Linked DNA regions of Homo sapiens: regions 2 and 3 are each linked to region 1. The links come from fine-mapping of genetic effects on gene expression. A gene starts in region 1. Each other region holds a variant in brackets. All regions are shown on one strand. Distances are from middle to middle. Region 1 holds the start of PSMB3 (proteasome 20S subunit beta 3). Region 2 overlaps CWC25 (CWC25 spliceosome associated protein). Region 3 holds the start of CWC25 (CWC25 spliceosome associated protein).

Region 1 (8,316 bases):
GCCCCCGGCGTGCTCGGGCAGAGAAGAACGGAGGCCCGCTGAGGATGGGAACTCAGGCTCCGGGTCTGGGACACAATAATCCGGCCGAAGGCGAGCGGCCACACTGGACTAGGAAACGAGGCGCCGGGCTGTAAGGTGGGCCCGCGCCTTTTCTCCTGCCTGGCGCTGATTCCCGCATTTTTCGCTCGCGCCCTGCGCTGCGCGCTGCCTGTGCGCCTCCCTGGGCGCGCGGGCGGGAGAGTCGGGCGAGCGCCAAGACGGCTGGGCCCGACTCCCACTGGCGCCCCGGCTCCACCTGGCGCTGGGGCTCCGGTCCGCAGTGGCTCCGGCAGGAGGGAGAGAACGAGGAGGGAGGCTTGGAAACGCCGGGAGTAGCGGTGAGGCCGACGCCGGGGAAGCGAATCGATACTGCGTTACTGGACGCCCGTGGGCCTCATGAGGATGGTCGATTCCCTCATTCGTTATTCACGATTTATTAGGGATGGCGGCCGCGTCTGTCCCTCCAGAGAGCTCGATTATCCATCCGGCCAGCAGCGCCATTAAGCGCACTGACGGTGGGAGGCTCGAGTTAGAAATTAGGATAGGAATCTTCGCCCAGTTTTGGAGCGCCTGCCTCCTCTTCCCTCGTTGCTCGCAGCCAAGGCAGCCGCGAAGCTGGGGGCCTCGGGTGAATGCTTTCGCCCTCTGGCCGGCGACCAGGAGACCTGCGCACACTGGCCGCCGAGTGACCCCAGCTCGAGCCTGCAGCCACACCAGCGGGACGGGGGCGGGGAGGAAGAGGAAGGGCGGAGAGACTTCCTTCCAGAGGGAGTGGTCCGAGAACCGGCGGGAGAAGGGCCAAGGGAAGATCCGGTCACCTGCTCCGGAGCCTGCAGGCGGAGAGGCGAGTAGTTCACCGGCCCCGGAGGAAAGGGGACCCTCCCACTGTTCCCAGGCAAATGTGTCGCCGGCATCCTGCACTCTGCCGGGGAAGACGCGCATCCACTCGCTCTGCAGGGAGGGGAACGCGGGAAGGACTCCCAGTCAGCCGCCCCTCTCTGGCTACAAGACCCCGAACAAGAGAAACCTGTAACAGGGGCTCTGCGGAGATCTGGATCCCACCCACCAACCACATGGGCACCTGGGGGGCTGCCCCTCGGGGCATTATCAGCCAGTGGGAAGGGGGTTGACGTTCCTCTGCGGCCCATGAATCCTGGAGGGCTGCCCGAGGGGCCACCGGGGTCCATCCACTTATTCTTCGGTTGTTAAGCGCCAGACAGGAGAGAACCGCTAGAGAGGAGTGTGCTAAGACCCTATTACCCACTAAAACTCCATTTTCATCTTTTGCGTCCTGGATGACTAGTCTCCACATTCCTGGCCTTTCTGGTTTCTCAGGAGAACCTTCTGACCCAACTCTTCCCACATCGAAAGAGTTTCCTAGTCTTTTGTTCTACTACTAGCCGACATAGAAAGCACCTGTCATGTGCCAGTGTCAAATACTGCGCTAGGAACTGGGAACTCAAGGCACAGGAGCCTGGCTTTTGCGCAGGGCGCTCACAGGCCGGTGGGTGCAAACCCTGAAGGACACACAGCCTGTCCCTTTAGCGCCCATCGCTTCTGGTGTGAGCTCCCGCTAAGGGTGGGTGAGTACTGGGGTGGGCTTCCAGAAGAGGCCTCCTTTGAGCCGAATCTGCAGAGACCAAGTGTCTATGAGAACTGCTCAAGAGTGCTTTGCACATTCTCCTCCACAAAGGTCGAGGCTCCCACTGCGCCCAGGAATGCGCCTCGTCAGACATTAGGCGCCCCTTGATTTTGTGTTTGCATCTCACGCGGTCCTCTAGCTGACAAGTGCATCAGAAGAGTCACAGTGGCTGTCACAAGCCAGAGACTCGCAGAGGACAGGAACGCGGGAAATCTAGGCAATTACCTCCAGCATATACCAAGAGCTATTGCGAGGATCAGATCCCTTTAAAAATGGTGACGAGACAGGAGAGGGCGGCTCCTCTAGAGCTTTCCGGAACGTCTTTACCTCTGTGTCCTTTATACCTTTTATCTCCCCCAAACAAGGTCCTTAGTCAGTTTCTCCTTCTATTTCCCCATCTTCCTCCCCCACCTCCCTGTGTAGTTCTAGGGGGAAAAAATGTGTTGTTTTCCTTTTTTTCTGATGCTTCTAATATTAAATGCGTCTATTTTCCCACTCTCCATTGTCTTGAGGTCTTCCCCTACCCACCCTGCCTAGTTCTGTCACGTCCCTTCTTTCCCTGTATCACAACAATGTTCTCCCTTTCTCACCTTTGTTTCTCTTCATACTTGTTTCTCTCTCTGTGTCTCTCTCATTCTCTTCCCTTCCAAATGTAGTATTTGGAGACTGTAATATCGATTGAGGCAGACAATAGAAAACTGTCGAACCTCCACTGTAAATTCATTCTTAATCCTATGAAAAAATGCATCCTGAAACGTGTTGCATGCACAGTGAGACAAAAACCTGTGTCTTTAGGTTTCCTGCGATCTAGCTTGGAGGCGGGTTGGGGGGGTGTGGAGGGAAGTGCTGGAGAAATTATCCCATTATTGACTGAGCAGCAAAGAATTTTCAAGAACAGTGATTCTCCTAGAAAAAGTATTGCTGCTGCCATTTCAATGCAAAATTTGGCTTTTGAGTAAAAGGCTTAGGTTTTTATCTTCCGGGGAGAAAAAAAAAACCCAAAAGACAAAAAAAAAAAAAAAAAAGGTCATAGCGTCCCTGGGTGGGCTCGAACCACCAACCTTTCGGTTAACAGCCGAACGCGCTAACCGATTGCGCCACAGAGACCGAGTCGACTACCGGCGTAGTAGTGAGCCGAGTCAATGGGAGCGAGCCTGGACGGCGCAGACGCCGTAAGAGATGCCGCCATCGGGCGAAATAAGTGGAACCCGGGGGAGAAAGGGAAGGATCCTGATGGGGGAGGGAGGCGAAAGAGCTTGGGAGGAGAGGACGCGGGACGTGCACGCCCTTCCTCCATTGGAACGGCGAGAGGTCGACTCTGGCTATCCTCAGGTTCTACCTCAAACGTGGAGAGGCGCGGAACGTCCCTTTTTAGGGTGACCTGAGATTGAGGATACGTGAAGTCGGGCCGCAGGAAGTCCCCCAAATCAGAACAAGCTTCGGCTTCCAAACTCCCTTTCACAGCTGAACCCCTGCAGCCGCAAAATACCCGCGACGCCTACACGCGACGCCTTCCCCTTCCCACCTGCATCATTAAATTTCCATTTAATGGGCGCCTCCTATATACTAGGCACTGTTGTGGGCCAGTGAATATTCCGAGCCTAGGCAAGTGCCTGGTACACAGTAAACGCAGGATTTCTGGAGTGAATAAATAAGCTAGCACGACTAATACGACGAACTCATACATCACGTTGATAAGCGTCACGGTGCCCCTTCAGCTGGGGCCGCAGCTTCCTAAACCCAGTTTCACCAGCCCACGTGCGCGCAGGCTCCGCCCCCAGTCCCTGAGGTCCCGAGTCCAGGTCCGCCGAGATCCCACTATGCACCGTGTCGCAAGTCTCTTCCGCAGCCACAGTGACTTTTCACTTCCGCTTTTCCCGCCTCCGTTTTGACTTTGCAACCAAACTACCTGTACTGGTGACCGACAGGGACGTGTGACCAATAGAAAGCCCAGATGTCCAGGAAGAGTCCGCCTATCAGCCAATGAAGAGACAGCAGTGAGAGCGGTTGCGCAGTGAAGGCTAGACCCGGTTTACTGGAATTGCTCTGGCGATCGAGGGATCCTAGTACACCGCAATCATGGTGAGATGGGGAGTTAAAGCAAAGGGGCATGGGGAAGGATTGAGAAGCGGAGGGGGTCAGGAGAGGCTTGGGGACGAAAAGGGCCTAGGGTCGATGGAAGGAAGCGGTTTCAGTTCGAGGGGAGCGGGCCCCGGTGAGGACCAAGAGGGTGAGTGCGGCTCATTGCCGCCACACAGTGCTCATCCCAGCTGGAGAACCAGGGGTTCAGACGCCTCCGGAATGGAGAACGGGCGTACAGGAGCCTCCGCATCAGGAGCTGGGCCGGGGGCTGTGGCAGCGTTTGACCCCCCGCGCTGACCCCTCCGCTCTGTCTGTCCTAGTCTATTATGTCCTATAACGGAGGGGCCGTCATGGCCATGAAGGGGAAGAACTGTGTGGCCATCGCTGCAGACAGGCGCTTCGGGATCCAGGCCCAGATGGTGACCACGGACTTCCAGAAGATCTTTCCCATGGGTGACCGGCTGTACATCGGTCTGGCCGGGCTCGCCACTGACGTCCAGACAGTGTAAGTTTCAAGGGTCCCCGCCCACACCCAGGCCTCTTCTTGGACCATCCAACCCCGGCGTCTTGACCGGCCAAGGTGTCAGTCATCTACCACACACCACCAGTGAGTTTGAGACTTTGCCGCCTCCAAAAAACATGTCCTTCCCTTTCTTTTTTTTTTTTTTAGACAGGGACTTGCTCTGTCACCCAGGCTGGAGCTCAGTGGCATGATCTCAGCTCACTGCAACCTCCACCTCCCAGGCTCAAGCGATTCTCGTGCCTCAGCCTCCTAAGTAGCTGGGACTACAGGCGCGCACCACCATGCCTGGCTAATTTTTGTATTTTTAGTAGAGACAGGGTTTCACCATGTTGGCCAGGCTAGTTTCGAACTCCTGACCTCAAGTGATCCACCTGCCTCAGCCTCCCAAAGTGCTGGGATTACAGGCATGAGCCACCACACCTGGCCTGACTTTGATTTTGACAACAATTTTGAGCAGACAAGACAAGCCCAATAGAAACATCTTGCAAGCAGTTGGGGTTTTGTTATTACATCTCAGGGTTGGGGAAGCATTGGCAATGTGCCAAATCTATGGGAGCAGATTCTGGAGAGACAAAGTCTGTAGGGAGGGAAATAATGAGCGGCAGTTTGAGAGCTGAACGTTACATTTAGCAGTGAGGGGCGAAGAGAAGCCAGAGAAGAATAAGAGAGGAAAAGAACGGTGATAGGTTTTCAGGAGGGAATACGTGGTCACAGGGGGCAGGTCCTGCAGGGTACTGGTGCCTGAGGAGCAGCAGGTCCTGGATTTGTTTCCTAGAAGGTGGAGAGACTAGCTCACAAGCGTGGGTGGATGCCTGTCAGAAAATGTTCTCATTTCGGCTGGGCGCGGTGGCTCACACCTGTAATCCCAACACTTTGGGAGGCTGAGGTGGGCGGATATCTTGAGATCAGGAGTTCCAGACCAGCCTGGCCAACATGGTGAAACGCTGTCTCTACTAAAAATACAAAAATTAGCCAGGCTGGGTGGTGGGCACCTGTAATCCCAGCTACTCGGGAGGCTGAGGCTGGAGAATTGCTTGAACCTGACAGACGGACGTTGCAGTGAGCTGAAATTGTGCCACTGCACTCTAGCCTGGGCAACAGAGCGAGACTCTGTCTCAAACAAAATAAAAAAAGAAAGAATAAAAGAAAATGTTCTCATTTCTCTTAAAACTCCCTGAGTCTCAAGAACATAACACTTACTGAGATCTCACCCAGCCTGCCCTTTTTTCCTGTCTGGTAGAGTCAGAGAATGACATCCTGGGGTTCCTGTCAGTGAAGTCTCCCGTGAGCCTTCCCTTCTGCAGTCACTGCTGTTCTCACACCATTTCCTTTTCTTCAGAGGGCTTTTCTCACTGCGTTTGCTTCCTTCTGGGCAATGACTGCTCATTTCACTAGGCCTCAGTTTCCTTACCTGGAAGATGAAGCTCAAGTCATTTCTAAGTCTCTTTGCTCTGGTGTCCTGAGACTCATTGCTTTTCCTCCAGCAGGTGTGGCATTGGTCTGCTCTATGCAGGGGCCTATCCTGGGGCTCTGAGATGGAACTGGCAAGCTGTGACCTTTTTTCCTTTTTTCACCAGAGCTGCCAAATGGCCTTTTTCTAAGGCATCTTTCAAGTCTGTTAGCACATAGCACAGCAGTTGGTGCTGCCCCCTTTTTTTTTTTTTTGTCACCCAGGCTGGTGACATAAACTTAACTCACTGCAACCTCCGCCTCCAAGGCTCAAGTGATCCTCCCACCTCACCCTCCCAAGTAGCTGGGACTACAGGTGTGTGCCACCATGCCCAGCTAATTTTTGTAGTTATTGTAAGAGGCAAGGTTTCGCTATGTTGCCCACAGCTGAACTCCTGAGCTCAAGCAATCCTTCCGCCTCAGTCTCCCAAAGTGCTGGGATTACAGGTGTGACCCACTGCGCCCAGCCTAAACATTTTTAATATGGAACGCTTCACAAATTTGCATGTCATCCTTCTGCTAATCTTCCCTGTATTATTCCAGTTTTAATATATGTGCTGCTGGCCAGGCGTAGTGGCTCACGCCTGTAATCCCAGCACTTTGGGAGGCCAAGGTGGGCAGATCACGAAGTCAGGAGATCGAGACCATCCTGGCTAACACCGTGAAACCCCATCTCTACTAAAAATACAAAAAGTTAGCCGGGAGTGGTGGCGGGCGCCTGTAGTCCCAGCTACTTGAGAGGCTGAGGCAGGAGAATAGCGTGAACCCGGGTGGCGGAGCTTGCAGTGAGCCGAGACTGACTGCGCCACTGCACTCCAGCCTGGGCGACGAGTGAGACTCCGTCTAAAAAAAAAAAAAATATATATATATATATATATATATGTGTGTGTGTGTGTGTGTGTGTGTGTGTGTGTGCTGCCAAAGCAAGCACCAGTTGCTACTTCCTAACACATGTAAGACTACAGTTTTCCCTGGGCAGGGACTGAGATGAGATGTCTCCTTATGTTTCCCTGACCTCAACAGGGTAGACACTCAGGAATATTCAATAATGACTTACTAACTCACTTTTCTCCTACCTCAGTGCCCAGCGCCTCAAGTTCCGGCTGAACCTGTATGAGTTGAAGGAAGGTCGGCAGATCAAACCTTATACCCTCATGAGCATGGTGGCCAACCTCTTGTATGAGAAACGGTGAGTGCAAGTGTAGCTAGCACTGAGGGAATGCAGACATCTTTGAATGTAGTATGGAGTAGGTACTGAGGAAGAGGACTCTCCTTGTTTTTCCATCTCTTATTTGCAGGATAATATCCTTATTTTATGGGTGTGTTTTCTTTGGGCCTGTCTGGCAACCAGATAGGAAAGAAAATACTTATGTTGGAAGAAGGCAAGGAATGCACATAGCAGATAAATTTGCATCTAGGCAAAAGAGTTAGTCCCACCAGAGTGTTCTGGGGTCTCCCAGCAGGAGCCACTCTTGCCCTAGAGCTATTCTGTCAGCACTGGCTTCTTGGGAATAGCAGGGAGCCTAGGAATGGGGTGTTCATTTTCGTCAGTTCTCCTTGAGGGCTTTATGGTGAGAAACAAGGGGCCTAACTGTAGAATTTAGTGCAGAAATCTAGGATGGAATTGAAAGGAAACCCTGTGGGTGCTTTCTACCTCTGGGCAAACCTGGGTGGCCAGAATATAAGTTGAGCTCTCTTTTTCTTTTTTTTTTGAGACGGAGTCTTGCTCTGTCACCCAGGCTGGAGTGCAGTGGCGTGATCTCGGCTCACTGCAACCTCCACCTCCCAGGTTCAATCGATTCTTCTGCCTCAGCCTGCCATGTAGCTGGGACCACAGGTCCATATCACCACACCCGGCTAATTTTTGTATTTTCAGTAGAGACAGAGTTTCAACATGTGGGTCAGGCTGGTCTCGAACTCCTGACCTCAGGTGATCCACCTACCTTGGCCTCCCAAAGTCCTATTATAGGCATGAGCCACCATGCCTGGCCTGATCTCTTTTTTTTTCTTTTCTTTTAACTTTTTATTTTGAAGTAATTTTTGTAATTTGTAAAAATACCCTTTAGCTTTCAAAAACTTTTTCTTTTTTTTTTTTTGAGATGGTGTCTTGCTCTGTCGCCCTGGTGTGCAATCACGGCTCACTGCAATCTCCACCTCCCGGGTCCAAGTGATTTTCCTGCCTCAGCCTCCTGAGTAGCTGGGATTACAGGTGTGTGCCATCACACCTGGCTAATTTTTTTTTTTTTTTTTTTTTTTTTTTAGTAGAGACAAGGTTTCACCACGCTGGTCGGGCTGGTCTTGAACTCCTGACCTCAACTGATCTACTGCCTCCGCTTCTCAAAGTGCTGGGATTACAGGCATGAGCCACTGCGCCCTGCAAAAAGTCTTATAAAGTTGTAACAATTAACTCATATTTGGATGTATATTAAATGGCTTGCTGGGCGTGGTGGCTCATGCCTGTAATCCCAGTACTTTGGGAGGCCAAGGAAGGTGGATCACTTGAGGTCAGGAGTTCGAGACCAGCCTGGTCAACATGGTGAAACCTCATCTCTACTAAAAATACAAAAATTAGCTGGGTGTG
Region 2 (10,708 bases), 55 kb after region 1:
GAAATTCATGACACAGCCCATGAGTACACTACTTTAGGACTAAGCTAGAAGCCAGAAGCTGAAGGAATAACTTAGCCTCAGAAAATAATAAATAGGGCCAGGCATGGTGGCTCACGCCTGTAATCCCAGCACTTTGGGAGGCCAAGGCGGGCAGATCACCTGACGTCAGGAGTTCGAGACCAGCCTGGCCAACATGGGGAAACCCTGTCTCTACTAAAATTACAAAAATAAGCTGGGTGTGGTGGTGTGTGCCTGTAATCCCAGCTACTTGGGAGGCTGAGGCAGGAGAATCGCTTGAACCGAGGAGGCGGAGGTTGCAGTGAGCCAAGATCGCACCACTGCACTCCAGCCTGGGTGACAGAGTGAGTCTCTGTCTCAAAAAAAAATAAAAACCTCCAAACGAAAAACAATTTACTATTAAAAATCTGCTTCAGATAATAAATGAAAGATATTAGAGCATTCAAATGAGAGTAGGAGGCTTAAAAAAAAAAAACAAAAACGATTGCCAGGCACAGTGGCTCTAGCCCGTAATCCCAGCACTTTGGGAGGCTTAGGCAGGAGGATTGCTTGAGTCCAAGAGTTCAAGACCAGCCTAGGCAACAAAGTGAGACCTCCCATCTCTGCAAAAAAAAAATTTTTTTTTAATTAGTTGGGCATGGTGGCACCCGTGTAGCCCCAACTATTTGGAAGGCTGAGGTAGGAGGATCAGTTGAACCTGGGAGTGTGAGGCTGCAGTAAGCCATGATCGCCCCACTGCACTCCAACCTAGGCAACAGAGTGAGACCTTGTAGGGAGAAGAAAGAAGTTATCAAAGAAATAATACAAGAAAATTTCCTAGAACTCAAAGACATGGTTTAGATTGCAGGAAGCAAATACTGACACTAGGAAAAAATATACAAATCATACAAGAAAGGAAATGTAACCTCCATATTCTGCTTGGCTTAGGAATGAAAAGTATCAGTAAACAATATTTATATATCATACAAGTATGAATCCACATACTCACTGAACCAAAAATTCTGATGTAACCATATTGGAAAGATAGGGATAGAAGAAACATGGGACTAGGAGTGTATGAGAGCTCATTTACACTAACAGATTATTTACTATAACAGTAAGAAAATATCTAAGATCTGGCCGGGCACGGTGGCTCACACCTGTAATCCTAACACTTTGGGAGGCCAAGGCAGGTGGATTGCCTGAGCTCAGGAGTTCCAGACCAGCCTGGACAACACATTGAAACCCCATCTATATTAAAAATACAAAAATTAGGGCCAGGTGCTGTGGCTCATGCCTGTAATCCGAACACTTTGGGAGGCTGAGGCGGGCAGATCACCTGACCTCAGGAGTTCAAGACCAGCCTGACCAATATGGTGAAACCCCATCTCTACTAAAATATACAAAAATTAGCTGGGCATGGTGGCATGCGCCTGTAGTCCCAGCTACTCGGGAGGCTGAGGCAGGAGAATCGCTGGAACCCGGGAGGCAGAGGTTGCAGTGAGCCGAGATCGTGCCACTGCGCTGCAGCCTGGGCGACAGAGCGAGACAAAAAAAAAAAAAAAAAAAAAGGAAGCCCGGGCGTGGTGGCTCACGCCTGTAATCCCAGCACTCTGGGAGGCCGAGGCAGGCAGATCACCTGAGGTTGGGAGTTCGAGACCAGCCTGACCAACATGGAGAAAGCCTGTCTCTACTAAAAATACAAAAATTAGCTGGGTGTGGTGGCACATGCCTGTAATCCCAGCTACCTAGGAGGCTGAGGCAGGAGAATCACTTGGGCCCAGGAGGCGGAAGTTGTGGTGAGCCGAGATTGGGCCATTGCACTCCAGCCTGGGCAACAAGAATGAAACTCCATCTCAGAAAAAAAAAAAAAAAATTAGCTGGGCGTGACAACATGTGCCTGTAGTCCCAGCTACTCGGGAGGCTGGGACAGGAGAATCACTTGAACCCCGGAGGCAGAGGTTGTAGTGAGCCAAGATTGTGGCACTGCACTCCAGCCTGGGAGATACAACAAGATGCTGTCTCCAAAAAAAACAAAGAAAGAAAAAAGAAAATATCTAATATCTAAAATTAATGGATGAAGAGGCAGCAACATATTTGTATTTTTAGGAATATGTAGCTATGAAAAGAAACTACTGAAAAAGCTGAAAGTAGTTGCCTTTGGGTAGCATGACTAAAAGTGGGATCAGGCAGGGCAAAGAACTACTAGCTTTTGTTTTTTTAAATGTTTTTAAAATAATTTTTTGTAGAGATAGTGTCTTATTATGTTGCTCAGACTGGTCTGGAACTCCTGGCCTCAAGCGATCCTCCTGCCTTGGACTCTCAAACTGCTGGGATTACAGGTATGAGCCACCACACCCAGAGAGAATAATTGAGGGGTTTTTTAAAGAGGGTTTAATTTAAGAGAGGGTCTCGCTCTGTCGCCCAAGCAAGAATGCAGTGGCTTGATCGTAGCTCACTGCAACCTTAATCCCTTGACCTTAAGTGATCCTCCCTGCCTTAGCCTCCCAAAGCGCTGAGATTACAAGCATGGACTGCTGTGTCTGGCTTGGTTTTTGTTAAGAGACTTTTTTTTTTTTTTGAGACAAAGTCTTGCACTGTCGCCTGGGCTGCTGTGCAGTGGTGAGATCTCAGCTCACTGTAACCTCCAACCCCTGGGTTCAAGCAGTTCTCCTGTCTCAGCCTCCCAAATAACTGGGATTACAGGCATGTGCCACCATGACCAACTAATTTTATATTTTTAGTAGAGATGGGGTTTCACCGTGTTGGTTAGGATGGTCTCGACCTCCTGACCTCAGGTGATCCACCCACCTCAGCCTCCCAAACTGCTGTGATTACAGGCGTGAGCCACCACGCCCAGCCTTACCTCGTCCTTTCAATGTCCTCACATGGCTGGAGGCAGGGGACGCAGACCCTTACAGGTTGGCAAGATAAATAAAAGTTGGTTCGTCGAAAAGGTAATGATGGATTATCCATTTGCCATGGTTTGAGCCCCTTCTAGATTCAGGCCTGCAAAATGTGGTTAATCAACTGGGCTCCTGACTCACCTGGTGTATCCGGGAGCATGTCGCCTTTGGTAGACCTCTTTTTTAGGTGATGGGCTCCTAGTTTGGCCTGTCTCTCTCCTGTTCACCTTAGAGTTGTGCCTGTAGCAGACACAGAAGGCAAAGAGGAAAAAGCCTTTTTGGTCCAGGGGCTTACACTGAATCCCTCAAACAATGCAAGATGAGCTAATGGTCTTAGAGGTATAATCTAAGTGTGAGAAAAACAAAGGTATAGGGTTTGATGTTAGACTCACCCCAGAGCTCCCAAAGCACAGAATACACCTACAGATATGTGGCTTTGGATGCCTGAGCTTTACATTGAGGTGGAAAAAAAAAATGATGTAAAGGAAATACCAAAGCAAAGACATTTGGGAAAGTCAATGGACGGACATCACCAAAAGCAAAAACAAATGCCTGCTGGGACCAGGCCCCCACAGTCACAGGTTATTTCCCAGTGAATCCCACACTCACAGTTTGCTGGGTCTTGGGGACCGTGACCTTCTGCCCAGGGATCGAGACCTCCTGTCCCGGGACCCTGCTTCCCTGGTGCTCTTCTTGCTGGCATGTCTTGGGGGTGAGTGGGAGGAGCTTCTGGATCTGGAATGGTTCTTCATCCCATGCCCTCTCTTTTGCTCTGCTGTCAGAGGACCCTGAAGACCCTGGTTACGGTCAGAGTTCCGGACCTACATCATTAAGGAAAAGAGAAGTTATTCACATGGAAAATCCAGCTATTCAGGAGAAAACGCGGCCGGGCTCAGTGGCTCACGCCTGTAATCCCAGCACTTTGGGAGGCCGAGGCGGGGGGGATCACCTGAGGTCAGGAGTTCGAGACCAGCCTGGCCAACATGGTGAAACCCTGTCTCTACTGAAAATTAAAAAATTAGCTGGGCGTGGTGGTGGGCACCTGTAATCCCAGCTACTCAGAAGGCTGAGGCAGGAGAATTGCTTGAACTCAGGAGGTGGAGGTTGCAGTGAGCTGAGATCGCACCACTGCACTCCAGCCTGGATGACAGAGCGAGACTCCGTCTCAAAAAAAAAAAAAAAAAAAAGAAAAGGCAGTGAAACAGGAAATGTTACATAAGGAGCTCACTGAGCACACCAATATCATCACATAGAATTATCACAGAGAACTGTATAAACTTAGTTATCTGCAGAATCCCCTAAAAGAATCTCCTTCGGTCAGCCAGGTGCAGTCGCTCACACCTTGAATCCCAACACTTTGGGAGACGGAGGCAGGAGGACTGCCTGAGATCAAGAGTTTGATACCACCCAGAGCAACTAGTGAGACCTTGTCTCTACAAAATATTTAAAAATTAGCTCGGTGTGGCAGCACACGCCTGTAGTCCCAGCTACTCAGGAGGTTGAGGCAGAAGGATCCCTTGAGCCTAAGAGGTCAAGACAGCAGTGAGCCAGGATCACACCACTGCACTCCAGCTTGGATGAGAGAGAAAGACCCTGTCTCAAAAAAAAAAAAAAAAAAGATGGCTGGGTGCTGTGGCTCATGCCTGTAATCCCAGCACTTTGGGAGGCTGAGGCAGGCAGATCACGAGGCCAGGAGATCAAGACCATCCTAGCTAACATGGTGAAACACTGTCTCTACTAAAAATACAAAATAATTAGCTGGGCATGGTGGGCACCTGTAGTCCCAGCTACTTGGGAAGCTGAGGCAGGAGAATGGCATGAACCCAGGAGGCAGAGCTTGCAGTGAGCCGAGATGGCGCCACTGCATTCCAGCCTAGGCGACAGAGTGAGACTCCATCTCAAAAAAAAAAAAAAAAAGAAAAGAAAAGAAAAGAATATACCTGGCTTGGCTGGGTGCAGTGGCTCACGCCTGTAATCCCAGCACTTTGGGAGGCCAAGACGGGCAGATCACAAGGTCGGGAGTTCGAGACCAGCCTGGCCAATATGGTCAAACCCCTCTCTACTAAAAATACAAAAATTAGCCGGGTGTGGTGGTGGGTGCCCGTAGTCCCAGCTGCTCAAGAGGCTGAGACAGGAGAATCACTTGAATGCAGGAGGCAGAGGTTGCAGTGAGCCGAGATCGCACCATTGCACTCCAGCCTGGGCGACAGAGCGAGACTCCCTCTCAAAAAAAAAAAAGAAAGAAAAGAATACACCTGGCTTAGCTCTTCACTATAGGTTAAGGAAGAGCGAGATGCAGAAGCATGGAGGACAGGACCCAAGGTTAAAAATACAGAAATATGAGGCCAGGCATGGTGGCTCACGCCTATAATCCCAGCACTTTGGGAGGCCGAGACAGGCGGATAGCTTGAGGCCAGGAGTTTGAGACCAGCCTGACGAACATGGAGAAACCCTGTCTCTATTAAAAATACAAAAATTAGCCAGGTGTGATGGCAGGTGCCTGTAATCCCAGCTACTCAGGAGGCTGAGGCAGGAGAATCGCTTGAACCCAGGAGGCAGAGGTTGCAGTGAGCTGAGATTGCACCATTGCACTCCAGCCTGGTTGACATGGAGAAACCCTGTCTCTACTAAAAATACAAAATTAGCCGGGCATGGTGGTGCATGCCTGTAATCCCAGCTACTCGGGAGGCTGAGGCAGGAGAATTGCTTGAACCCAGGAGGTCGAGGTTGTGGTGAGCTGAGATCGCGCCATTGCACTCTAACCTGGGCAACAAGAGCAAAACTCCACCTCAAAAAAAAAAAAAAAAAATACAGAAATACAGAAGTCAAGCCAGGTGCCTTGAACTTGTACTTCCAGCTACTCAGAAGATTGCTTAAGCTCAGGAGTTCGAGACCAGCCTAGGCAAAATAATGATGCACTGCTACT[C/CA]AAAAAAAAAAAAAAAGAACCCAGCAGATTTATGTTTGTCAAAAATCATCAACCTACACACTTAGGCCAGGCACGGTGGCTCACACCTGTAATCCCAGCACTTTGGGAGGCCGAGGCGGAGGGATCACCTGAGGTCAGGAGTTCAAGACCATCCTGGCCAACATGACGAAACCCTGTCTCTACTAAAAATACAAAAATTAGTCGGGCGTGGTGGTGGGCGCCTGTAATCCCAGCTACTCGGGAGGCTAAAGCAGGAGAATAGCTTGAACCCGGAAGGCAGAGGTTGCAGTGAGCCGAGATCGCGCCACTGCACTCCAGCCTGGGTGACAAGCGAGACTCCGTCTCAAAAAAAAAAAAAAACAAAAAAACCTATACACTTAAAATGTGTGCATTTCATGTAAATTATTTGTAGAGGGATGGGTAGAATGTCTCAATGCCCCATTGGTGGTTTAGTCTCTCTGCTCAGAGGGTCATCAGCCACAAGAAGGTGCTCAGCGATAAGAATGGGCCTGTTTCCCAGCAGCCCAGGCTTCACTGCCCACCTCCCTGCTATCCACATTGTCCAAGTGGCACATCCCACAGTCCCACAGTCACTCCTTTCAAGAAGCCCACATCCCTACCTGTAAGCCATATCCAGGGACTTTGGACAAAACAGGGGAGGAATTTGCCATCTTCTTCTGTGATCTAAGAGATCAAAATACACACACTCATTGAAAAAGAAAATATATATAGGTCCAATTTAAATATCTTATGCTGAACTATGCTTCTTGCCTCCAATGTGACCTTTCCGCCTCCCAGCAGTTACCTGGCAGTACGTTTCTCTATTTGGACTGTCTATGCCGAAAAATGCATCAGCACAATCAAATTTTCCTGTGAAAAACTGTGGGCCTCGCTTCTAAGCCCCAACGCCTGAACACCTTCTCCTCTCACTTCATGCTGCTATTCCAGGGACAAATAGTGACTCAGCAGCGGCGGAGCTGACTGCTTCCACAGGAAGACATGCAAAATGGGCCCACATCAGCCATCAGTCCATTAAAAAAAGCCTATATAAAGCCCACTTCAGTCTTGAAGGAATCCTAAGCTGAGATGAAACAGAGTCACCCCCAGGATGTCTGACCTACCTAAGACCTACTAGGCTAAAGTCAGCATTATTAAGGGTCTCTCTCCAGCAGCATGGCCAAGATACCCACTCACATTTAGCATCTCCAAGGAACTCTAGCATTAGATGGCAAGCTCTGTGGGCACTGGGCCCATGTTCAAGTGTTCATCACTGAATGCCCAGTACCTGGCAGCTTCCAGCACAGGGCAGGTGTTCATGTCTGTGGAATGAATGAGTGAATGAGCAAGTGAATCAACGAGAAGGGAGGCCAGTCGCCACATGCTCACCTCCCTGCACTGTGCTCATCCTCGCTGCTGGAACGATCACTACTCGAGCTTCTGTGCTTATGTTTCTTGTGCTTCTTTTTCTTCTCCTTCTTTTTCTTCTTCTCCTTTTTTTCCAGACTCATTTGCAACTGGAAAATGCCGAGAACACAAGCACACAAGATTACTGAGACCAGCCAGCGCAGTGGCTCATGCCTGTAATCCCAGCACTTTGGGAGGCTGAGTGGAGCAGATCATCACTTGAGGTCCGGAGTTCGAGACCAGCCTGGCCAACATGGCAAAACCCCATCTCTACTAAAAATACAAAAATCAGCTGGGTGTGGTGGTGGGCACCTGTAATACCAGCTACTTGAGAGGTGAGGTACAAGAATCACCTGAACCAGGAGGCAGAGGTTGCAGTGGGCCGAGATTGTGCCACTGCACTTCAGCCTGGGTGACAGAGTGAAACTGTGTCTCAAAAAAAAAAAAAAAAAAAAAGATTACTGGCTGGGCATGGTGGCTCACGCCTGTAATCTCTCAGCACTTTGAGAGGCTGAGGTGGGAGGATCACAAGGTCAGGAGTTCGAGACCACCCTGGCCAATATGGTGAAAGACCATCTCTACTAAAAATACAAAAATTAGCTGGGTGTGGTGGTGTGTACCTGTAGTTCTAGCTACTCGGGAGGCTGAGGCAGAAGAATCACTTGAACCCAGGAGGCAGAGGTTGCAGTGAGCTGAGATCACGCCACTGCACTCCAGCAGCCTGGGCGACAGAGTGAGACTCCATCTCATTAAAAAAAAACAAAAAGCCCAGGCGGGGTGGCTCATACCTGTAATCCCAGCACTTTGGGAGGCCAAGGCGGGTGGATCACAAGGTCAGGAGAAGGAGACCATCCTGGCTAACACGGTGAAACACCATCACTACTAAAAATACAAAAAATTAGCTGGGCATGGTAGCAGGCGCCTGTAGTCCCAGCTACTCAGGAGGCTGAGGCAGGAGAATGGCATGAACCTGGGAGGCGGAGTTTGCAGTGAGCTAAGATCGTGTCACTGCACCACTGCACTCCACCTTGGGCAACAGAGCGAGACTCCGTCTCAAAAAAAAAAAAAAAAAAAAAGATTACTGAGACCCCTATCAGTCTCCTTTGAGGGGCGTGGCTCATGCACAAACTGCCTGACTCCATGCCTCTGGGTCTACAGAAGTCCAGGACATTATAGGGGTTCCCTGTCAACACACCAGGGGAAGGGTCTTAACCCTGGCCGTGCACTAACACCCCCAACTACTGAACTGGTATCTGGTAGGTGAGACTAAGAATTTGTGTTTTTAAACAGTCACCAAAACCACTGCCTAGGAGTTTCCATTCTGTGTCACAGGAACTCCAATTCCACTGAAAGCAGTCAGGAACTATAAGGTCAATCTTTAACTTTCCTTACCAACTGATCCAAGACACAATTACATAATATGTCATGTGAATGGTAAGTGGGCCCTAGAAGCCTTATTTTTTTTTTTTTGAGACAGAGTTTCGCTCTTGTTGCCCAGGCTGGAGTGCAATGGCGCAATCTTGGCTCACAGCAAACTCCATCTCCCGGGTTCAAGCAAGTCTCCTGCCTCATCCTCCCAAGTAGCTGGGATTACAGGCATGAACCACCACCCCGGCTAATTTTGAATTTTTAGTAGAGACAGGGTTTCTCCGTGTTGGTCAGGCTGGTCTCAAACTCCCAACCTCAGGTGATCCACCCGCCTCGGCCTCCCAAAATGCTGGAATTACAGGCATGAGCCACCGCGCCCAGCCCCTAGAAGCTTTATACCACGACCAAGGGCATACTCCAACCTCCTGAACACACTGCATGGTAATGCTTTCCACAGGCTTAGCCCACACTCTTCTTCTGGAAAAACGACATCACATGGTGCATTCTCCCACCCAAAAGACTTTCAACCAAAATCAAGCTTAATTAAGCTTAATAAACTAAGATTACATAAAATAACCAACCTGACCAATATGAATAAACCCCGTCTCTACTAAAAATACAAAATTAGCCGGGCGTGGTGGCACATCCCTGTAATCCCAGCTACTAGGGAGGCTGAGGCAGGAGAATAACTTGAACCTGGGAGGCGGAGGTTGCGGTGAGCTGAGATCATGCCATTGCACTCCAGCCTGGGCAACAAGATTGAAACTCCGTCTCAAAAACAAAAAAATGATTACATAAAATAGCCACAACATGGTCTCTAAAAGACAAAAGTTTTAGAGGCCATTCTGTTTTTCCCCTGGTAAGCTGAGAGTAAATGGAGAGACGTTCTCACGTTATATGGCTAAAAGATGCTCTTGGTGCTTATCTGGTATACTACTTACCAATTCTTTGATTTTCTTCATTTTCACTGGATTATTTAATACCTCTCGTTTTTTCTCCTCCTCCTTCTTCCTAAAGAGAGATAATTACAAAATTCATGACTATTTCTTTTCTCCAAATTCTATGGAGTAACCTTTTCTCCAAACATATACAGACAAACTGGCCCATGTTAAAATCTACATGATTAGCTGGGTGTGGTGGTGTGCACCTGTAATCCCAGCTACTTGGGAGGAGGAGAATCGCTCCCAGCTACTTGAGGGAGGAGAATCGCTTGAACCTGGGAGGCGGAGATTGCAGTGAGCTGAGATCGTGCCACTGCACTCCAGCCTGGGTGACACAGCAAGACTCTGTCTCCAAAAAAAAAAAATCTACATGATGATGGGGCTGGGTGCAGTGGCTCATCTCACACCTGTAATCCCAGCACTTTGGGAGGCTGGGGCAGGCGGATCACTTGAGGTCAGAAGTTCAAGACCAGCCTGGCCAACATGGTGAAACCTCGTCTCTACCAAAAAAAACAAAACAAAAAAATTAGCCGGGCATGGTAGCAGCACGCACCTGCAGTCCTAGCTACTCGGGAGGCTGACGTGGGAGAATAACTTAAACCCAGGAGGCGGAGGTTGCAGTGAGCTGAGATTGTGCCACTGCACTCCAGTCTGGGTGACGGAGTGAGACCCTGTCTCAAAAAAAATAAATAAATAAAAAACGACATGATGGTGTCAAAGCCAAAAATCTCTCACAAATATAAGAGATTGTCTCAAAAAAAAAAAAAAAAAAAGAGTCATGCTCAGTCGTCCAGGCTGCAGTGCAGTGGCATGATCATGGCTCACTGCAGCCTTGACCACCTGGGCTCAAGTGATACTCCCACATCAGCTTCCCAAGTGGCTGGGACTATAGGCCCCCACCACCATGCCTAGCTAATTTTTATATTTCTTATAGAGATGGGGTTTCACCATGTTGCTCAGGCTGGTCTCAATTTCCTGGGCTCAAGCAATCCATCCATCTCTGCCTCCCAAAGTGCTGGGATTACAGGTGTGATCCACCGTACCCGGCTGTCAGTTGTTTTTTTTGTTGTTGTTGTTGTTTTTTCGAGACGGAGTCTCGCTCTTTCGTCCAGGCTAGAGTGCAGTGGCGCGATCTCAGGTCACTGCAAACTCCTCCTCCCGGGTTC
Region 3 (10,708 bases), 69 kb after region 1:
TTAGTAAAGACGAGGTTTCACCGTGTTGGCCAGGCTGGTCGATCTCCTGACCCCGTGATCTGCCAGCCTTGGCCTCCCAAAGTGCTGGGATTACAGGCGTGAGCAACCGTGCCTGGCCCCAAGACCCTTTAGAATTTTTTTCATATTAAAAAAATGAGTCTGAGAAACACTGTAGTCTACAGTTAAGAACTGATCAGCTGGGCACGGTGGCTCACACTTATAATCCTAGAACTTTGGGAGGCCAAGACAGGCTGATCACGAGGTCAGGAGATCAAGACCAGCCTGGCCAACACAGTGAAACCCCGTCTCTACTAAAAATACAAAAAACTAGCCAGGCGTGGTGGTACACGCCTGTAGTCCCAGCTACTCGGGAGGCTGAGGGAGGAGAATCGCTTGAACCCGAGAAGTGGAGGTTGCAATGTGCTGAGATCATGCCATTGTACTCCAACGCAGGTGACAGTGCGAGACTCGGTCTCAAAAAAAAAAAAATAAGAATTGATCATGGGGCCGGGCGCTGTGGCTCACACCTGTAATCCCAGCACTTTGGGAGGCCTAGGCGGGCAGATCACTTGAGGTCAGGAATTCAAGACCAGCCTGGCCAACATGGTGAAATGCCATCTCTACTAAATATACAAAAAAATTAGGCCAGGCACAGTAACTCACGCCTGTAATCCCAGCACTTTGGGAGGCAAAGATGGGCGGATCACAAGGTCAAGAGACCAAGGCCATCCAGGCCAACATGGTGAAACCCTGTCTCTACTAAAAATACAAAAATTAGCTGGACCTGGTGGCGTGCATCTGTAGTCCCAGCTACTCGGGAGGCTGAAGCAGGAGAATCGCTTGAACTCAAGAGGCGGAGGTTACAGTGAGCCGAGATCGCACCACTGCACTCAAGCCTGGTGACAGAGCGAGACTCTGTCACACAAAAATAATAACAATAATAATAATAATAATTAGCCAGGCGTGGTGGCACACGCCTGTAATCCCAGCTACTCAGCAGACTGAAGCAGGAGAATTGCTTGAACCTGGGAGGTGGAGGCTGCAGTGAGCGGAGATTGTGCCACTGCACTCCAGCCTGGGAGACAGAGCAAGACTCTGACTCAAAAAATAATAATAATAATAATAAATAATAGGCCGGGTGCAGTGGCTCACGCCTGTAATCCTAGCACTTTGGGAGGCTGAAGCGGGCAGATCACAAGGTCAGGAGTTCAAGACTAGCCTGACCAACATGGTGAAACCCCATCTCTACTTAAAATACTAAAATTAGCCAGGCGTGGTGATGTGCGCCTGTAATCCCAGCTACTCAGGAGGCTAAGGCAAGAGACCCGCTTGAACCCAGGAGGCAGATGTTGCAGTGAGCCAAGATCGCACCACTGCACTCCAGCCCGGGCGACAGAATGAGACTCCATCTCAAAAAATAAAATAAAATAAATAACAAAAATAAAACCAGCCGGGCACTGTGGCTCACATCTGTAATCCCAACACTTTGGGAGGCCGAGGCGGGCGGATCATGAGGTCAAAGATCGACACCATCCTGGCTAACACAGTGAAACCCCGTCTCTACTAAAAATACAAAAAATTAGCCGGGCGTGGTGGCGGGCGCCTGTAGTCCCAGCTACTCAGGAGGCTGAGGCAGGAGAATGGCATGAACCCGGGAGGCGGAGCTTGCAGTGAGCCGAGATCGTGCTGCACTCCAGCCTGGACAACAGAGCGAGACTCCATCTCAAAAAAAAAAAAAAAAAAAAAAAAAAGAACTATACAAAACAAACAGATGAATACTTAAGTCATCTAAATACATTAGCAGTAAAGACCAAAAAGAGAAGGGGCAGAGAGAACCAAATGCTGATCTTAGTGTTTTACAATATTGTAGGACATGTGATAGGGCAAAACAAAACAAAGCATATAAAATCACCTTCCCCCATTCACGACAGACAAGCAGGCATGAGTCTGCAACAATGCTGGCTCCTTTCTCTACAGTTGTGCATCTGTACTCTGACCTCATTAATCAGACTCCACAAAAGCCCAAATTTCTGATAAATTGAGCACATGATGTGTAATGCTTTGGTGAATAAAAATGTCAAAACAATTTTTACCTTTGGATAGTACCTCGGCTTATGACTAATGGGTATTCAGTCTAAAATCAATTTTTACTTATTTATTTATTTATTTATTTACTTAGAGGCAGAGTCTCACTCTGTCACCCAGGCCGAAGTCAGTGGCAAAATCATAGCTCACTGTAGCCTCGAACTCCTGGGCTCAAGCAATCCTCCTACCTCAGCCTCCCAAGTAGCTGGGACTACAGGCACATGCCACCATGCCCAGCTAACTTTTCCTTTCTTTCTTTTTTTTTTTTTGAGACGAAGTCTTACTCTGTCACCCAGGCTGGAGTGCAATGGCGTGATCTCAGCTCACTAAAACTTCCAACTCCTGAGTTCAAGTGATTCTCCTGCCTCAGCCTCCCGAGTAGCTGGGATTACAGGCATGTGCCACCATGCCTGGCTAATTTTTGGTTTTTTTTTTTTGAGACGGAGTCTCGCTCTGTCGCCAGGCTGGAGTACACTGGCGCAATCTCAGCTCACTGCAACCTCCACCTTCTGGGTTCAAGCGATTCTCCTGCCTTAGCTTCCCGAGTAGCTAGGACTACAAATGCATGCTACCACGCCCAGTTAATTTTTTTTTTTTTTTTTTAGTAGAGATGGGGTTTCACCGTGTTGGCCAGGCTGGTCTCGAAATCCTGACGTCAGGTGATCCGCCCACCTCGGCCTCCCAAAGTGCTAGATTACAGGCGTGAGCCACTGCACCCAGCCTCTATTTTTTTTTTGTTTGTTCGTTTTTTTGAGATGGAGTCTCAATCTGTCGCCCAGGCTGGAGTGCAGTGGCATGATCTCAGCTCACTGAAACTTCTGCCTCCCGGGTTCAAGCAATTCTCCTGCCTCGGCCTCCTGAGTAGCTGGGATTACCGCCACACCCAGCTAATTTTTGTATTTTAATAGAGACAGGGTTTTACCATGTTGGTCAGGCTGGTCTCGAACTCCTGACCTCAAGTGATCTGCCCGCCTCGGCCTTCCAAAGTGCTGGGATTACAGGCGTAAGCCATCGTGCCTGGCTAATTTTTTTCTATTGTTTTGTAGAGATGGGTTCCTACTACAGACTGGTCTAGAACTCCTGGCCTCAAGTGATCTGCCTGCCTCAGTCTCCCAAAGTGCTGGGATTATAGGCATAAGCCGCCACACTCAGCCTATATATTTTTAAACAGAGATGGAGCCTCACTACATTACCCAGACTGGTCTCAAACTCCTGGGCTCAAGTGATTTCTCAGCCTCCCAAAATACAGCAATTACAGGCATGAACCACCGCACCTAGTCCCCAGTTTTAGTCTATCTGTTATTTTATTTTATTCTGACTTAAGAATACACTGCATATTGTATGCTTTTTATTTTCTCAAACATATTTACTCCCATCTCCTTTTATGAGATGGATGGGGTAGTTATTATCTGCTACTCGTATCCTATATTATACAACAGGAAATTGAAGCAGGGTAAAATCTAGTGGCATTGGCCGTAATCACTCAGCTTTTATTGACAAGCATACCATCCACCTTCTCTCATGGGACCTCACTCCCTGCCCCCTGTCCCCGCCGACCCAAGCAAGCCTGAAATACATTAACAAAGGCAGGACTGCATCCTCAACATATGCTGAGAAGCAGGGTAGAGCAACCATCCTCCATCACGGTTATCAGCCATCTACTGTGAGCTCGGCTTACAGCAAGTCCTTACGTGTTATCTCATTTGATTCTCAACAAACCTTAAGAAGGCGTTGGGTATTATTACTCCCTGGTCCTACTGAAGTAACCAAGTCTCTCAAATTTGATCACAGTTCCACAGCTAGTACATGCAAAGCCAACCTTAGAATCCAGGTGAGTCTGGCATTACAACCCATGCCCTTAAGCACTCAGCCATTATACAACACTGGATGATGCATCTCAGGACAGCTCTGCAATTCCCTACACACAAGCGCACCCCCAGCTCCTCACTTACTTGACGGCCCCAACATCCTCCGCATAGCGCTGCATCTCTTCCCGGGCTCTCTCTTCTCGCAGCTCCCGCTGAAGCTCCTCAATCTTCTTCCGCTCAGCCTCATGCTTCTGCTCGGCCTTCCACACTTTCTCCACATTCCTGAGGGTCTGCGGGTGCCAGCTCTTCTTCAGATTCTGTGGTAAATAAAAAGAAGGTGATGATAATTCGGGGGGTGACTGAGTGGTGGGTATAACTAGCCCTGCCTCACCCACCCTTCCATACCCAAGGCAGGCGTGTGAGGGCAAGATGTCTTCAACAATGGCAAGGTTTTCTTCCAATAATCTCTCACACATCTAGAGGGGAAGGGGAGCTTGTTCAAGTGTATAAAGCTTCAGGACAGGTCGGGCGCAGTGGCTCACACCTGTAATCCCAGCACTTTGGGAGGCGGAGGCGGGAAGATCACTTGAGGTCAGGAGTTTTAGACCAGCCTGGCCAACATGATGAAACGCCTCTACTGAAAATACAAAAATTAGCTGGGCGTGGTGGCAGGTGCGCCTGTAGTCCCGGCTATTCAGCAGGCTGAGGCAGGAGAATCGCTTGAACCAAGAGGCGGAGGTTGCGGTGAGCCGAAACTGCGCTGCTGCACTACAGCCTGGGCGACAGAGCAAGACTCCGTCTCAAAACAACAAGAACAAGAACAAGAAAGCTTCAGGATAGAACGGGTCCTTCCTGAATTCCCTTCAAACAGTTTTAACCTTAAAAGCATACAAGTCATCCTTCCACTAGCCATACCTAAATCAGAGTTGGTGATGACAAGACAGGAGGAATGCAGTAATGAGCAGGAAGGCACATATTTTGAAAGAGAACAGAACTCATGCACTTCTGACAGTGGACATTCATTCTTTTTTTTTTTTTTTTAAAGTCTTACTCTGTCACCCAGGCTGGAGTGCAGCTATCTCGGCTGACTGCACCCTCCGCCTCCCGGGTGCCAGCAATTCTCCTGCCTCAGCCTCCTGAGTAGCTGGACTATAGGCACGTGCCACCATGCCTGGCTAATTTTTGTATTTTTTAGTAGAGATGGGGTTTCACCACATTGGCCAGGCTGGTCTCAAACGCCTGACCTCATGATCTGCCCGCAGTGGCCTCCCAAACTGCTGGGATTACAGGGGTGAGCCACCGTGCCCAGCCTTTTTTGTTTCTTGAGA[C/T]GGAGTTTCACTCTTCTTGCCTAGGCTGGAGTACAATGGCAGGATCTCGGGTCACGGCAAACTCTGCCTCCTGGGTTCAAATGATTCTCCTGCCTCAGCCTCCTGAGTAGCTGGGATTACAGGCATGCGCCACCACACTCGGCTAATTTTGTATTTTTAGTAGAGATGGGGTTTCTCTATGTTGGTCAGGCTGGTCTCAAACTCTCGACCTCAGGTGATCCGCCTGCCTTGGCCTCTCAAAGTGCTGGGATTACAGGCATGAGCTACCGTGCCTGGCATGGACATTCATTCTTTGGAACTCAACCTACCTTAGCTTGGTCTACTTCACCTGCCCTAAACTTGCATGGTTTACAACCCACCCAGAATCTCTTTCAACTTTCCTTCCCAGGAATCTCTCCTTGGTTCTGATCTCCCCATTCACCCTCAAAGAACACTTCTCTCTCTCCTCCCCATCAGATACTGCTTTGGTTCACTTTCCCAATAATGAAATGTTCCCCAAAGTAAGTAATATCTAAAGACAATTGTAAACTAGCCTGGTGATGTGTGAAGGGGAGATGAGGGGGGTAGATTTCCAAACAGAGGGGAACAGTACAGACAAGTGCAGTCCTGGTGGTGAGAAAGAACATAGCAATAATTCAGTGTGGCTGGAGATGTGGCAAGCTGATGGTGCAGGGACGCAAGAAGAAGCCAAGTGAGAAAGGAGCAGAATAAGGGCCTTATAAGCCATGTAAAGGGATTACAGGCATGCGCCGCCACGCCTGGCCAATTTTTTTTTTTTTTTTTTGAGATGTCGCCCAGGCTGGAGTGCAGTGGCGCAATCTTGGCTCACTGCAAGCTCCACCTTCCAGGTTCACGCCATTCTCCTGCCTCAGCCTCCTGAGTAGCTGGGACTACAGACATCCGCCACCATGCCCAGCTAATTTTTTTTGTATTTTTAGTAGAGACGGGTTTCACCGTGTTAGCCATGATGGTCTCGATCTCCTGACCTCATGATCTGCCCGCCTTGGCCTCCCAAAGTGCTAGGATTACAGGTGTGAGCCACCACACCCAGCCTGACTCCAACTTTTTTTTTAACTTTTTTTTTTTTTTTTTTGAGACGAGGTCTTGCTCTGTCACGCAGGCTAGAGTGCAGTGGTGCAATCTTGGCTCACTGCAACCTCCACCTCCTGGGTTCAAGCGATTCTCCTGCCTCAGCCTCCCAAGTAGCTGGGATTACAGGCGCCCGCCACTGCTCCCAGCTAATTTTTGTATTTTTAGTAGAGACGGGGTTTCACCATCTTGGCCAAGCTGGTCTCAAATCCTGACCTCGTGACCCACCCGCCTCTGCCTCCCAAAGTGCTGGGATTACAGGCATGAGCCACTGCACCTGGCTGAGACTCCATCTTAAAAAAAAAAAAAGAAAAGAGAATGGACTGGAGAGGACCAGGAGACCAATTAAGAAAATAAGATCATGTCCACAAGGTACTTGGCATGTGGAAAATGTTCGGTCAATGAGAGCTCCCTTTTCTTCCTTTTCTCTTCCCCTCCTTGTCCTGCCTCTCCCCTTCGTCAGGTCATTCAGTTGGTTGGTTGTGGGTCAGTCCGTCAGTTGGTCTGACCATCCGTCCATCCTTCCGTCCTTCCTCCCTCACTCCCTCCCTCTTTCTCCCTCTAACCCTTCCCATCTTGTCCTCCCTGCCTCAAGCATAGATTATTTTGCTCCCCAGGGAGAAAATCTTCTGGAGTCATTTTTGGCTGTCACAACTGGTGGAGACGGGTGTTAGTGGATAGCTCCAGTCTAGTGGCTAGAGGCCAGTGATGCTGCTAAACATTCTACAATGCACAGGACAGCCCAACTACCACCACTACCACACACCCCCAAAGAATTATCTAGGCCAAACTGTCAAGAGCGCTAATGTTGAGAAACCCTGGATTAGAGCTTTCCTGTCCTTAAATGCAGTTATGTGAAGAATACACTAAATTGGATGAAACTAGATGGAGTCCTGGCACTCACTGTGATTGAGAACACATGACAAACTAATAGGTTTACTGGGCAGGCGGCTAAGCTGATCTACTTGCTGGTTCAATTAGCTCCACTTTCCGGAGGCTAGCATTTTCCCAACCTTGCCCCATGCTCTTGTGGGTACATTTACCCTATTTGGGGCCTTAGCGCTTTACAAATGAACGTTTCAGTTTAAGAGACATTGCCACATAACTTATATTAAGTGGTATGAATTCAAAAGCAAGCTCTGCCACTACAGATCAGAATCCAGCACTGAAGGAGGTGTGGAAGTCAGAAAGATGGACAGGAAGATCCCTTCAGGCTTAAAAAGGACCCCAGGGCCGGGCGCTGTGGCTAACCCTTGTAATCCTAGCACTCTGGGAGGCCGAGGCGGGCGGATCACTTGAGGTCGGCAGATCGAGACCAGCCTGACCAACATGGAGAAACCCTGTCTCTACTAAAAATACAAAATTAGCCGGGTGTGGTGGCGCATGCCTGTAATCCCAGCTACTCGGGAGGCTGAGGCAGGAGAATCGCTTGAACCCAGGAGGGAAAGGTTGCGGTCAGCCGAGATCGCGCCATGGCACTCCAGCCTGGGCAACAAGAAACTCCGTCTCAAAAAAATAAAAAATAAAAAACGACCCCAGGGCATGGCTTAGGGTAGGGAGAATGGGGCACAAACCACCCCTACTTCAGTCCAGGACATGACTCTGAACTCTCACCCAAGGAAGAGAGGTGTGTGGCAAGACAAGATATACAAAACAAAGTGTGGTGACACGTCCTCCATATCTACCTCCTTTCCTAGCCATGGCTCCATCCGCCCCCTCCCCGGTCTTCCCAGAATTTACAGCCGGTAGAGCCGCAGTCAACAAACACGCAAACACCACCTGTCACTGTTCGCGACACACCTCGGACTTTCCCAAATCTCAGTCCCACCCCTCCATTGCCCTAAGGATCCATCCCCTCTTCAGGGCAACGGCCTCCTCCCGGCGAAAGCAAAGCTGCGTTGCCATGGTTATCCACTCCTTCCTCTACCCCCACCCCCTGCCAATTTCCGTCCCGGCCTCAGTCCTCCCCCGCCCAGGCCTCCCTCCACTCACCAGGTCTCCGCCCCCCATGACGGTGGAGACGATTCCTCACTACGCGGATCTGGAAGATTTCGGGAGGATCAAGAGAAAACGTAGAGAAATAGTTCGGGGGCTACCTCGCGGGATCTAGTCCCAGGAGCCGTCAACTGCCAGTTTCACCACCGCTCTAGAGGTCACTTCCGGGAGGGCGTCATCTCACCGCGTCGGCGTCGCGGAACGATGACGTACAGGGCTCGGTCGCGCTTTGTGACGTTGGCGTTACTTGCAGATTTTGCAAAGGTCCGGGCTCCGCTGTCGAGGCCTTTGCTGTCGAGGTCTCATTTTGGCTGCTTCGGGTCGCCACGTTGCCTGATGTCCCAGACTCTCTGTTGAAACGCCACAACTCTGTTCAGTGATGGGTTGCCGTGGGCCTGTGCCCACGGCTGTGTTGCCATGGCAGCTCACCAGGGCATTCGGCTCAAAGCTCCACGTAGTCTCTGCTAGACCTAAGGTGGACCAGACTAGGCCTCCTCCCCTCACCCTGCACACACCCCCACGCTCCAGTTTTCCAAAACGGCTTTGCAAACTGGCGCTTTCCTCAGACCTTGACTCACAGCAAATCCCCTTATGCCAGGCCTATTTTACGAAGCTAAATAGAAACCATCAAATCGAAATTCCATCAGCTTCCGTTTGCCAAACTTTTAAAATCTGCCAGCTTCCACAGTGGCAGATTTTCCCATAGTGGGAAGCTGGCAGATTCCTTTCCCTTCAGTTACTATGTGTTTTTGGCATGTTTTTCTTTTTTCTTTTTCTTTTTCTTCTTCTCCCTTTGTTTTTGTTTTTTGAGAAGGAGTTTTGCTCTCCCAGGCTGCGGTCGAAGCTGACTGCAACCTCCGCCTCCCGGACAGCAATTCTCCTGCCTCAGCCTCCCAAGTCGCTGGGATTACAGGCGCCCGCCACCCGCCCGGCTAATTTTTGTATTTTTTGTAGAGACAGGGTTTCACCATGTTGCTCAGGCTTGTCTCGAATTTCGACCTCAAGTGATCTCCCCGCCTCAGCCTCCCAAAGTGTTGGGATTACAGACATAAGCCACCGCGCCTGGCTATTTTTATTTTTGTAGCAACAGGGTTTTGCCATCTTACCCAGGCTTGTCTCAAACTCCTGGACTCAAGCAATCCTCCTACCTCGGCCTCCTAAAGTGCTGGGATTACAGGTGTGAGCCACTGCGCCCGACCTGTTTTGTAATTTTCAGAATAGAAGTTTTGCACATCTTTTGTTAAATTTATTCTAAATGTTGTATTTTTTGTGATGCTATTTTATTTATTTATTTATTTATTTATTTATTTATTTATTTATTTATTTATTTATTTATTTCGAGACGGAATCTCACTCTGTTGCCCAGGCTGGAGTACAGTGGCGCAATACCAGCTCACTGCAACCTCCGCCTCCTGGGTTCAAGCGATTCTCCTGCCTCAGCCTCCCGAGTAGCTGGGATTACAGGCATACGCCACCACGACCTACTGATTTTTGTGTTTGTAGTAAAGATGGGATTTCACCGTGTTGGCCAGGCTGGTCTGGAACCCCTGACCTCAGGTGATCCGCCTACCTTGGCCTCCCAAAATGCAAGGATTACAGGCACCCGGCCTGTGATGCTATTTTAAATAAAATTTAAAAATTTTAATTTTCCAATTGTTTGCTACTAATAGATAAGAACGTGCTTTTGTATAGTAACCTTCTATTTTACAGGCTTGCTAAATTCACTTATTAGTTCTTATGGCTTTTTAAAAATACTTATTGCCCGGGCGCGGTGGCTCACTCCTGTAATCCCAGCACTTTGGGAGGCCGAGGCAGGTGGGTGGATCACCTGATGTTGGGAGTTTGAGACCAGCCTGGCCAACATGGAAAAACCCCATCCTACTAAAAATACAAAAATTAGCCGGGCGTGGTGGCGGGTGCCTGTAATCCCAGCTACTTGGGAGGCTGACACAAGAGAATCACTTGACCCTAGGAGGTGGAGGTTGCTGTGAGCCAAGATGGCACCACTGCACTATAGCCTGGGCGACAAGAGTGAGACTTTGTCTCAAAAAAAACAGAAAGAAAGAAAGAAACAGGCTGGGCTCGGTGGCTCACGCGTGTAATCCCAGCACTTTTGGGAGGCTGAGGCGGGCAGATCATCTGAGGTTGGGAGTTTGAGACCAGCCTGACCAACATAGAGAAACCCCGTCTCTACTAAAAATACAAAATTAGCCGGGCGTGGTGGCACATGCCTGTAATCCCAGCTACTCTGGAGGCTGAGGCAGGAGAATCACTTGAACCCAGGAGGCAGAGGTTGTGGTGAGCCAAGATAGCGCCATTGCACTCCAGCCTGGGCAACAAGAGCAAAACTCTGTCTCAGAAAAAAAAAAAAAGAAAAGAAACAAACAAAATACCTATTAAATA

Evidence for each region. PIP is the estimated chance that this variant, and not a neighbour inherited with it, causes the effect.
Region 2: its variant is fine-mapped to the expression of PSMB3 in whole blood (INTERVAL, PIP above 0.99).
Region 3: its variant is fine-mapped to the expression of PSMB3 in whole blood (INTERVAL, PIP 0.94).

Annotation. Positions count from the first base shown.
Region 1 is chr17:38,749,067-38,757,382 of GRCh38, forward strand. PSMB3 (proteasome 20S subunit beta 3) reads left to right here and starts at 3,675. Exons shown (of 6, transcript NM_002795.4): 1 at 3,675-3,763; 2 at 4,084-4,268; 3 at 6,817-6,924. The coding sequence starts at 3,761. It overlaps TRN-GTT2-5 (tRNA-Asn (anticodon GTT) 2-5), which reads right to left and starts at 2,788; the gene lies at 2,715-2,788. It overlaps LOC100287808 (a long non-coding RNA gene), which reads left to right. Exons shown (of 1, transcript NR_149004.1): 1 at 1-2,686. It also overlaps a transcript of PCGF2 not described here and the pseudogene RNU6-866P.
Region 2 is chr17:38,803,253-38,813,960 of GRCh38, forward strand. It overlaps CWC25 (CWC25 spliceosome associated protein), which reads right to left. Exons shown (of 10, transcript NM_017748.5): 4 at 9,543-9,612; 5 at 7,216-7,343; 6 at 6,450-6,513; 7 at 3,513-3,724; 8 at 3,045-3,143. Among named protein-coding and RNA genes, the nearest start is that of PIP4K2B, 9.1 kb to the left of the region's middle. The variant C/CA (reference allele first, on the strand shown) is at 5,830.
Region 3 is chr17:38,816,864-38,827,571 of GRCh38, forward strand. CWC25 (CWC25 spliceosome associated protein) reads right to left here and starts at 8,458. Exons shown (of 10, transcript NM_017748.5): 1 at 8,303-8,458; 2 at 4,038-4,210. The coding sequence starts at 8,320. It overlaps MIR4727 (microRNA 4727), which reads left to right and starts at 8,975; the gene lies at 8,975-9,029. RefSeq lists an enhancer at 7,166-7,797. The variant C/T (reference allele first, on the strand shown) is at 5,222.